Linked DNA regions of Homo sapiens. The protein of the gene in region 2 interacts with the protein of the main gene of each other region in a biochemical or structural test. Each region holds a gene or a part of one and is shown on either strand. Other genes may lie near its edges. The genes, in order: CFLAR and DEDD2.

Region 1 (7,686 bases), on a different chromosome or scaffold from region 2:
GTCAGTGGATCTTGTCTAAACTGCCTTGACTCGAAGTTACCTGTGTAGGTAACTGCTGAGTCTTCCTCAACCACATTGTGAGGTTATGGGGACAAGAACCAAGTTTAGATCCATTTCTATGTCCTCGGCACCCAGAACTCTGCCTGGCCCAGAGAAGCTCAATAAATGTTGGTAGGATTATACTGAATTAAAGGCAAGGAGGCATTGGAGTCCATAAACACGAGTTTAATTAGCCCCTGGGGCTCTACAGGGAAGAAATAATCAGACTTCAAGGGTGCCCCATTCCCCAGAGTCCATTCCTGGTATTTGAAAGAGCAACATGCCCCGGAGTGTTGTGAGTCCTCTGGAGGCTCAAGGAGACCTAGGGCCAAAAGCGAGGACTCAATCCTTTTCTGCCAGTATCGGGGGACAGTGCCCCGACGTCCCAGGAGCCCAGGGCGACACCAGCCCAGGGGCGGGGATCGGGCAGGATTCTCGGTCTACTCACGCCCGGGCAGCCGCCGGCTCTTCCCACTGGATCTCCGCCGGGACCAACTCCCACCCTCGCCGGACAAGCTCAGACCTGCTGCTCCGCAAAACCAGAATTGGAAATGCTCCAGATGGGACGAGGAACAAGGACAGAAAGTCAAAAGCATCAACAGGTGGCTTCGCCGGAGGGCGTCCGAGAACCTCTGCCTGCTGAACCGCTTCACGCCTAATCCCCGCCACCCACCGGCTGAAATGTTACCACACAAGACATAAATTCTAGAATCCTGTCTGCGGAATTCCCCGCCCCCCGCGCAGTTGAAACTTGCACAGGGCCACTCGCGTGTCTCTGGGTGGTAAAATTCTCCATGCGTGGTCAAACGGCTTATGCATAGCTCAGGACCGTTACGTGCGACCCCACCAGGACTGAGTGGGGACAGCCGCTGCGCCCCCACCACCTACTAGGAGCTGCGGTAGGACCTCCAATGCCCCAGGGGCCTAGGCAATTTCCGCTTCAGCTTCCTGGAGGTCCCCAGCCCAAGGCTCAAAAAACTGCACACTATCCGGCCCACCCCGGGTCGCGCAAGACTTTCGGGGGGAGGGGGAAACCCAGCGACCCTGCAAATGGCTTCACCTTGGAAACCGGTATAAGGAAGCAAGTAATACCGTGTTAAAAGAAGGTCAAATGTCAGTTACAAACAGAAACGTAAAACATAAAGTCGCTAGAGAAAGCCATTTTAACGAGGACATTTGACCCAAAAGCTTAAGTAAAGCAAGTATTAACAAAACAAGAAAATGGATGTAAAGCAAACAGTAAACATTAAAAACTCCCTTTCAACCCAGTCTTTTTTGTTTAGATCTTGGAGTTGGGCCGGGCATGGTGGCTCACGCCTGTAATCCCAGCACTTTGGGATGCCGAGGCGGGCGGATCACCTAAGGTCAGGAGTTCGAGACCAGACTGACCAACATGGAGAAACCCCGTCTCTATTAAAAATACAAAACTAGCCGGGCATGGTGGTGCATGCCTGTAATCTCAGCTACTTGAGAGGCTGAGGCACGAGAATCGCTTGAACCCGACAGGCGGAGGTTGCGGTGAGCAGAGATAGTGCCATTGCATTCCAGCCTGGGCAACAAGAGTGAAATGCTGTCTCAAAAAAAAAAAAAAAAAAAAAAGATCTTGGAGCTCCAGCCAGGTTTTTTGTTCAACGAAACTTTTGTAAGGTTATTTAGGGGAATCACCAAACCGAAAAGTGCCAAAAACTCCGTTCCTCTTATCGGAAATCTCTCTCTAAAGCAGGTCAAACCTTCCAGAGCCCGCTGTCTGTTGTAGATTATCGCAGTTTGTTGATGTCCAAAAAGCTTTACTTATGCTATACGCTATCCCCCTACTGGTTTCACCCCTCATTGCTTAAGAACAAATTTCAAATGTCAACCAATTAAAATATTCGCAAGACCTCTGGCGTCCTTGAATTTACTTCCTGCCCGTGGAGCCAAAAACTGATTCTGAATTTCAGTGGCCTTTGTTCTACTGCGTGCCACTGTTAATATTAAAAGAACATGGCCTTCTGTCCAAATCCAGACACCCTCAAGCAAGAACATCTTGAAGCCAGTTTACATTTCCCAGTCGTTTTGAGGCGGTGGAAAAGTGGCAGAAACAGGTTCATTTTAAAAGGCTCTAAAAACTTTTCATTAGCCAAGCATTCCCAGCTTTCCCAAGGCAAGCTTTCCTTGCACTTGGGCAAAATAGACATTAAACTGCTCTGGAAAATAACCGCCCTGACCAGGCTATTGTGAAATTCCCTCCAGGGCGGCGGCTCCCACTGAGTGAGATCGAGCGCATACACAATTGTTGGGAAAGTCCACGTTCCCAACAACTTTCGAAAGGAAAAATGCCAGATCTTCTCAACAGTTCACCCCAAGAATTGAACTCTCAAGATCATTTTAAGCAAAGTTTACACGACGCTGAGGGCCCGCCACTGAAGCTCGCGGGTGGGCCTCTGGGGCTGCGGCTGCAGGGGGCGGCCAGAGTTGGCCAAGGGTTACTTCCGGTCTCTCAGGTCCATCGGGGTGCAGCTTGTACCGCTGTGGCCCAGGTCGCCCCTTTCTGGGAATCCGGGGCGGAGTTGCGGGTAGAAGGGGTTCGGGGGTTCGGAGCCGGGCGGAAACGGAAGCGGGGGCATTCCGCAAAGCCCGCGGTAAACAACCGAGATAAGGAACCTACAAAACTGAGTCAGGTTCCAGAAGCGCCCCCGCCATCCCCTGGCCACTGCCGGCCACCTGCAGTTTCCCGGAGCGCAGGGCTGTGAGGAGCGGCGCGGGGTGGGACGCGGGGCGCGGCGGCGCAGGGCCTGCTGCAATGCTGACTCAGGGCCGGGCGTCGGGGCTTGGGGTCTGGGACAGCTCCGGCGCCGCCAGCGCGGGGGTCGAGCGCGGGGCACGTACCGTCCTGTCGCGGCCGGACTCTCCTGCCGCTGCCACCTCAGCCTTCGCTCCCCTAGACGCCGGGAAGGCGCACCCAAGATGGAGGCAAAGAAACCGAAAGCCTGGAAGCGGACTTGGTGCTGGGCGATCGCTGTTCGCGGCGCTTCTCTCCTACACCTCCTCCCGTGGTCCTTGTTGTCTCAGCTGTCACTGGACAAAAGTCCAATAGCCGGCACTCACTGTGTGAGGCCGAGTCCCCACCCCTAGCTCCGGGAGTCCCTTTTAGTTGAGACTCGTCGGTGAGGCTGCAAGCTCGCTGTTTCCTGCTATGGCTTGTGTGACTGAGTATGCAGTAACCGGGGGTGGATGTCGACACAAGTTCCACGCGTTAGGAGTAAACACTGCGAGTGTTTTTTTTTTTCTTTCTTTCTTTCCTTCTTTTTTGAGACAGAGTCTCGCTCTGTGGCCCAGGCTGGAGTGCAGTGGCGCAATTTCAGCTCACTGCAACCTCCGCCTTCCTAGTTCAAGCGATTCTCTTGCCTCAGCCTCCCGAGTAGCTGGGACTACAGGCACGCGCCAGCACGCCCGCCTAATTTTTGTGTTTAGTAGAGACGGGGTTTCACTGTTGGCCAGAATGGTCTCGAACTCTTGACCTCGTGATCCGCCCGCCTCGGCCTCCCAAAGTGCTGGGATTACAGGCGTGAGCCACCACGCCCGGCGCGAGTGTTTACAATTGTTGTCTGGGAGTCATAGCAAACGTGAACACACTTTGTGGTTTTTTGTGTGTATGTTTTTGTTTGTTTTTTTTTGTTTTCCTTCTTGAGACAGGGTCTCGCGCTGTCGCCCAGGCTAGAAGGCAGTGGCGCCATCACAGCTCACTGCAGCCTGGATTTCCCGCTCTCAAACCATCCAGCCCTCAGCCTCCCAAGTAGCGGGGACCACAGGTGCAAGCCACCATGCCCGACTAATTTTTTTTTTTTTTTGTATTTTTAGTAGAGATGGGGTTTCACCATGTTGGCAAGGCTGGTCTCCAACTGCTGGCCTCAAGTGATCCTTGCCCGCCTCGGCCTCCCAAAGTGCTGGGATCACAGGCGTGAGCCACCGCGCCCCTCTACGTTTTTATTTATTCCTAATAACTACTTTATTGTGATTCTTAAAGAGCTTTAACTTTTCTTGAGATAATTTTAAACTCACAGGAAAGGTGAAGAATAATACCAAGAGAGACTAACAGCAGGACGGCATGAAGAGCTCGGGATTCACCCCTAGTGAAACTGAAAATTATTTAAAACAACAAACAACCATTAACCATTTAAAGCCTTTGAAATGGTCCTAAGGGCAAACAGCAAATGAAGAAACATCTGTTCCAAAAAATCTATGAAAACTCTTGGATCAGAATGTGAGAGTCAGTCTGTGGTATTTAAACCAAACCTCTCCCTTTGTTCAGCAAGAGACTCCACTCCAGACTGCTGCAACTCAGAACCTCTCTCTTCCCACAGCTCCCAGTCAGAGACCAGCATATCAGCATTTCTCATCTTGCCCCTAGCTACCTGATGCTGAAGGTAAATCCTGGGGGAGTGTGGTGGAGAGGTGGGAGATTCCTTCTTCCATCCAGAGGCTCTACCTTGGGTGGAGTGCTGAGACACCAGAGGAGACTTCAGCTCTTTTTCTCCATCACTTTCACCCCATATTCACCCCCAACCTTTTTTTTTAATCTCTCCATCTTCCCAAGATAGTTATATTCTGTTTGATTAATCTTCAGTATATATGCTATTATAATCATGTAAACGGTAGTCACAGCCAAGTTATGTACCAAACTATGATTACTTTTCCTTTCCCACACAACTTTTAGTTTTTTCTGGAGTTAATAATTGTCTTGTTTTGTTGGTTTTTCCATGTAATTCTATCCTAAACTCTGTCAGTTATCCAAGTTTGGTTTTTTGTTTGTTTTTGAGACAGGGTCTCACTCCAGGCTGGAGTGCAGTGACCCGATCACAGCTCACTGCAGCCTTAACCTCCCAGGTTCAAGTGATCCTTCTGCCTCAGCCTCCTGAGTAGCTAGGACTACAGGTCCTAGCATGCCACCATGCTAGGTGTGCCACTACAGGTGCCACCATGCCCAGCTAATTCTTTAAAAAAAAATTTGTGGCCCGGCGCAATGGCTTATGCCTGTAATCCCAGCACTTTGGGAGGCTGAGGCGGGTGGATCACGAGGTCAGGAGTTCAAGACCAGCCTGGCCCAGATAGTGAAACCCCATCTCTACTAAAAATACAAAAAATTAACTGGGTGTGATGGCGGGCGCCTGTAATCCCAGCTACTCAGGAGGCTAAGGCAGAGAATTGCTTGAACCCGGGAGGCGGAGGTTGCAGTGAGCCTAGATTATGCCAGTGCACTCTAGCCTGGGAGACAGAGTAAGACTCCATCTCAAAAAAAAAAAAAAAAAAAAAAAAAAAAAAAATATATATATATATATATATATATATATATATATCTAGTAGAAGCGGGGGTCGTGGGTGGCAGGGAGTCTTGCTATGTTGCCCAGGCTGGTTTTGAACTTGCCTCAAGTGATCTTCCTGCCTAGGTCTTCCAAAGCACTGGGATTACAGGCATGACCACTGCTGCTCTTGGCCTTTCTTATCTTTTTAGTACACCAAGAAAATTTTATTACAGATCAGCACCTGTCCTTAATTTGGAAACTACTATTCAAGAACACCTAGCTTAGCACCTCCATCACCACCTCCAACCCACCCTATCCCAAGTGAAAGCCATTTCTGGTTGTCAGTAGAACCATCATAGTGGACTTACCCCAGGCCCACCTTGCATGCCCACTGATTCTTACCACTTCAACACACACCAGTATGACTTCTAACCCAGCATATCCATATGTCGTTCCCTGAGGGCTTTTTCTGGCTCACATTGGAAGCCCATGTTGTCATCCCATTTGGCAAACCAGTAGGGGCAGGCATTTAACCCCCTACCCCTGTGCCATCCTTATCCTTTGGCTTCAGCAGCCCTCAAAGAATGACTGTATACACCTATGTTGACACTCCCACCTGCAGTCCACTTTCCATTTACATCCTCTTAAAATCAGCCACCCCTTGGGCTTAGGGATGTGCATACTTGCAGCATAGTTTGTCCCTGGGGTATGGACTTGGGGAAGAGGCCAATGTAGGCCCTGGTGGGAGGCTCAGGGCTCTTTGCGTAGAGAACTTCAGGTCTTAGGTACCCAAAGAGGGTTTATTCTTTTTGTTTTTTTGAGACGTAGTCTCACTCTGTCACCCAGGCTGGAGTGTAGTGGCACAATCCTGGCTCACTGCAACCTCTGCCTCCCAGGCCCAAGCAATTCCCTTGCCTCGGCCTCTCAAATAGCTGGGATTATATGCGCGCACCACCATATCCGGCTGATTTTTGTATTTTTAGTGGAGACAGGGTTTCACTACGTTGGCCAGGCTGGTCTTGAACTCCTGGCCTCAAGTGATCTGCCCACCTTGGCCTCCCAAAGTGCTGGAATTACAGGCGAGAGCCACCACACCCAGCCCCAAAGAGGGTTTTAAACAGAGGGTCTCGGTGTGGGCATGTCCTCTTGACCTTGCAGACTCCTCCCACCTCTGATGATTCTCCTCACCTGAGGGAAGGGCACAGCCCAAGAAGAGCCGGAGCAAGGCCCTTCTAAATCAGGGCCCACAACAGGACCCCCAGTGCCTGGGTCCAAGGGCAGTATTGCTTAAGCCTCTCTGACTTTCTGTTTCCACACTTAACAAAGTAGCAACAAATGTTCACGTTTTCATCAAATTCACTGGTTGTAAACCTTGGCTGCACATTAGACTGTCCCCAAGGAGCTGCAAAAACCTCAGTGGCCAGGTACCATTCCAGACTAATTGTATCAAAATCTCTGAGAGTGAGACCCAGGGATTGGTAGTTTTTAAAGCTCCCCGTGTGATTTCAATGTACAGTTAAGATTCAGAACAACTGATCTAATCCAAACATTTTCTCACTCCGTCAACCACAACCCAATTTTCAGATGAAGAATCTGAGGCTTAAAGTGAGTTAATAAATTGAGACATCTCACAACTAGCTAGTGACAGGACTAGGACAGGATGCCAAGAATTTATCTAATGCTTTTCCTTATATCACAGTGGGTGACTTGGGAATGGAGAATTAATAGCCACAGCAATGACTTTATATCTACTCTCTTAGCCACACATCCTGCCTCAACTCCTCTGACATTCTGGGAGAATATATTCTTGGCTGGGTATGGTAGCTCATGCCTATAAACCCAGCACTTTGGGAAGCCAAGGCAGAAGGAACACTTGAACCCAGGTGTTCAAGATCAGCCTGGGCAATACAGGGAGAGCCTGTCTCTACAAAAAATTAAAAAATTAGCCAGGTGTAGTGATGCATACATGTGGTCCCAGCTACTCAAGAGGCTGAAGTGGGAGGATCACTTGAGCCAGGCAGGTTGAGGTTGCAGTAAACCATGAGCACAGCACTGTACTCCAGCTTGGATGACAGAGTGAAACCCCGTCTCAAAAAATATATATAAATAAATTTAGTTTAAAAAGAATACATTCTTTTTTTTTTTGAGATGGAGTCTCGCTCTGTCGCCAGGCTGGAGTGCAGTGGCATGATCTCAGCTCACTGCAACCTCCGCCTCCCGGGTTCAAGCGATTCTCCTGCCTCAGCCTCCCGAGTAGCTGGGACTGCAGGTGCGCGCCAGCATGCCCAGCTAATTTTTTTTTTTTTTTTTTTTTTTGAGACAGAGTCTCACTCTGTCACCCAGGCTGGAGTGCAGTGGCACGATC
Region 2 (2,873 bases):
GGGAGGCTGAGGCAGGAGAATGGCGTGAACCTGGGAGGCGGAGCTTGCAGTGAGCTGAGATCATGCCACTGCACTCCAGCCTGGGCAACAGAGCAAGACTCCGTCTCAAAAAAAAAAAAAAAAAAAAATTCCTGGGAGCCCCCAAGGACATACAGGAGCAAAGCATGTGTGAACATGGTTGGAAGGGTTTCTGACTCCGAGGCAGTATTCTATTTCTTCCTTTGACAGAGGACAAGACTGACACCCAGAGGGGAGGACAAGCGTGTGGTTATCAGCTGGCATATGGTCCAGCATCCTGCCCACACTCCAGTCCCTAACGCTGGGCCAGGAACACTCCTCCTCCCAGCCCACTGAGGTCCAAAAGCTGGGCATGGTGACGGGCACCTGTAGTCCCAGCTACTTGGGAGGCTGAGGCAGGAGGATCGCTTGAGCCCAGGAATTTGAGGCTGGCCTGGGCAACATATCAAGACCCTCAACTCTAAAAAAAAAATTTAAATTAAATAATAAATAAAGAGTCCTAGAGAGGCCGATGCCCACCTATGCCCTTTCCAGGGCAGTTTAATTGGTATCATTTGTAAAAGGTCTTTTCCATCACCCCCAAAGCCTTTGCATTCCCTTTCCAAGAAGGTGGCTGTTTACTGGTTTTGGCCCCATGTGCAACAGTAGGCCTTGGTATGATGCTGCCATAACACTCCCATGTGACACTCCAGGTGACATCCAAGTGCAAGTCTATGTTCAGCTCTGGACAGCAGGGGGGAAGGTGAGGAGAGTCAGGTCTGTAAATTGAAGCTGGGCAGGGCCCTGGCTGGCTGGAGATGTGTGGGCAAGGTGAGCAGGCCCCATGTGCACCCCAGCTCCAGTGCCCACTGATGTGGCTGAAGCCCAGGTTGGTTGTGGTCAAATTAGAGGTCCTGAGAGAGAAGCCCTTAGGCCAAAGAAGTGTGTGCTGGGAAGCAGGCCAGGGCAGAGGCCCAGGGAAGATCTCAGCAGGGGCAGTGTGAGCATGAGCGAGTGTGTGCACCTGTGACAGTGCAGACAGCCCAAGATCAGAGATACAATGTGCAGGGGGGCCTTTGGTGAGTGTGTAGCTGTGCCCCTCCCTTCTGAGATACAGGCCCAGCCCCCGCCTCCGGAGGCTAAGGGGGCACACCTGGGGGTAGGAGGAGTCTGGGAAGGAAACTCAGCTGGAAATGGTTTAGGCCTCAGAGCCCACATCCTGTGGGAGGGGCTGTCAAGGGGCCTGCTGTCCCGGTCCTGTCGCAGTCCTCAAAGATGCTAGAGTGACAGTCCTCTAGGGGTAGAGATGGTCGTCCTCCCAGGAGAAGGTGGCCCGGAGACTTGGAGGTGGGATCAATCCTGCCAGTCCTGGATCAGGAGGCCTCTGTCGGGCGCCGCCCCCCTTCCTCCTCCATCAGCAACAGGCGGCGCCGGCCAGCCTCATAGTCAGCCTCATCCACACTGACCAGCAGGCGAACAGCCTCCCGGCCCACAGCCTCTCGCAGGGCCTCAGTCAGGAACACGCCCCGCAGGGCCTGCAGCAGGGCGCCACTCAGGTAGTCGCCCCAGAAGGCGTCCAGATAGGAGAGCTCTGAGAACTTGATGTCACAAACCACAGAGCCCAGGTCCCTTGAGCGCAGCACTGCGGTGGCCTGCCCAAACACGTCCAGCTGCCGCGCCAGCGCCTGGGGCCGCCGGGATGCCACGCCCTGCTCCAAGGCTGGCCCATGCTCGCAGTACTCTGCTCGAACCCGGAGCCGGATGTCTGCAGGGGAAGGAGGGATTTGTCAGGGAGGGGGCCAACACTAGACACACTTATGGGGAACGCCACCCTTCCTCCCTCCAGCCTTCTCCCTCCACCCCCTTCCGGTAGCCACACCCTAGTCCTGACACAGCCTCCCCGGCTCTGTGGGGTTCCCTGACCAAGTACGTCCTCCTCTTCTCCAGCCCACCACCTCCTCACTGCTCCAACAAGCCTCCCCACCGCCAGGGGTGCTCTTTCCCTGGATCTGCACAACACTTGCTCCCTCTCTTCCTGCAGGTCTTTGCTCAAAAGCCACCTTGCCAACAAGGCCCACCTAGGCCAACCTATTTACAGCTGTAACCACCCACCCAGCCCTCTCTGCAGCATGCCAGGTCCCACACCCTGCTCCATTTTTGTCCAAGGCACTTATCACCTTCCAACCTCCTCTGTCAGTTACTATCTGCTCATTATCTGTCTCTACACTCAGCATGGAGAGACAGATGACAGCAAGGAAGGGGTTTTTGTCTGTTTTGTTCACTTGTGTAACTGTGGCACATAGTAGGTGTTCAATATGTATTTGTGAAGAACTAATGCATGAACTAATGGACTTGCCTTAAGGCAACCAGCCTCACACCCTGCCCCCAAACAATGAGATTCACATGGTGCCAACCACATCCCCATCCCTCCCATCCACCTGAGCCAGCACTGCGGATGCGCAGGGTCCTGACCAGGCCCGGGAGGCTTGCGGCTGGACCTGTGCTGGCTCTACTGGGAGTCAGGTACTCTCTTGCCACAGAGCTGCTAAGATGATGGGTTGGAAGCCCAGAGCTGCTGGGAGCCACTGTGCCAAGAGGAGAGAAGGAAGCCTACGCAGGGCCAGCCCCAGAGATAAAAAGATTCCTGAGGTCATCACATGAGCCCACGATCGTAGCTGGATTTTCAGCTACACTCAACTCCCCTTTTTGCTGAAGCCAGTTTGAGTCGGTTTCTGTCACAACTCTCCCCACATCTGCGCAAAAGAGGTGGCAGCTGTGTACAGGGGACAGGACACTGGACTTCTAAGGCTATCCTGTAATCATGAACTTCACATACCACCTCTCTTCCAGAATTTCTGAATTCCCACCCATCACTT

Evidence for each region.
Region 1: the proteins of DEDD2 (region 2) and CFLAR form a complex in vitro, tested with the Homo sapiens proteins (2 studies listed by BioGRID).

Annotation. Positions count from the first base shown.
Region 1 is NC_000002.12:201,111,703-201,119,388, reverse strand, and holds the start of CFLAR (CASP8 and FADD-like apoptosis regulator), read right to left. Parts: upstream 3,226-7,686; 5' UTR 2,908-3,225; exon of another isoform or gene 2,705-2,907; intron 674-2,704; exon of another isoform or gene 488-673; intron 362-487; exon of another isoform or gene 1-361. UniProt on the Homo sapiens protein: Apoptosis regulator protein which may function as a crucial link between cell survival and cell death pathways in mammalian cells. Acts as an inhibitor of TNFRSF6 mediated apoptosis.
Region 2 is NC_000019.10:42,198,068-42,200,940, forward strand, and holds the end of DEDD2 (DNA-binding death effector domain-containing protein 2), read right to left. Parts: intron 1,763-2,873; coding exon 1,371-1,762; 3' UTR 531-1,370; downstream 1-530. UniProt on the Homo sapiens protein: May play a critical role in death receptor-induced apoptosis and may target CASP8 and CASP10 to the nucleus. May regulate degradation of intermediate filaments during apoptosis.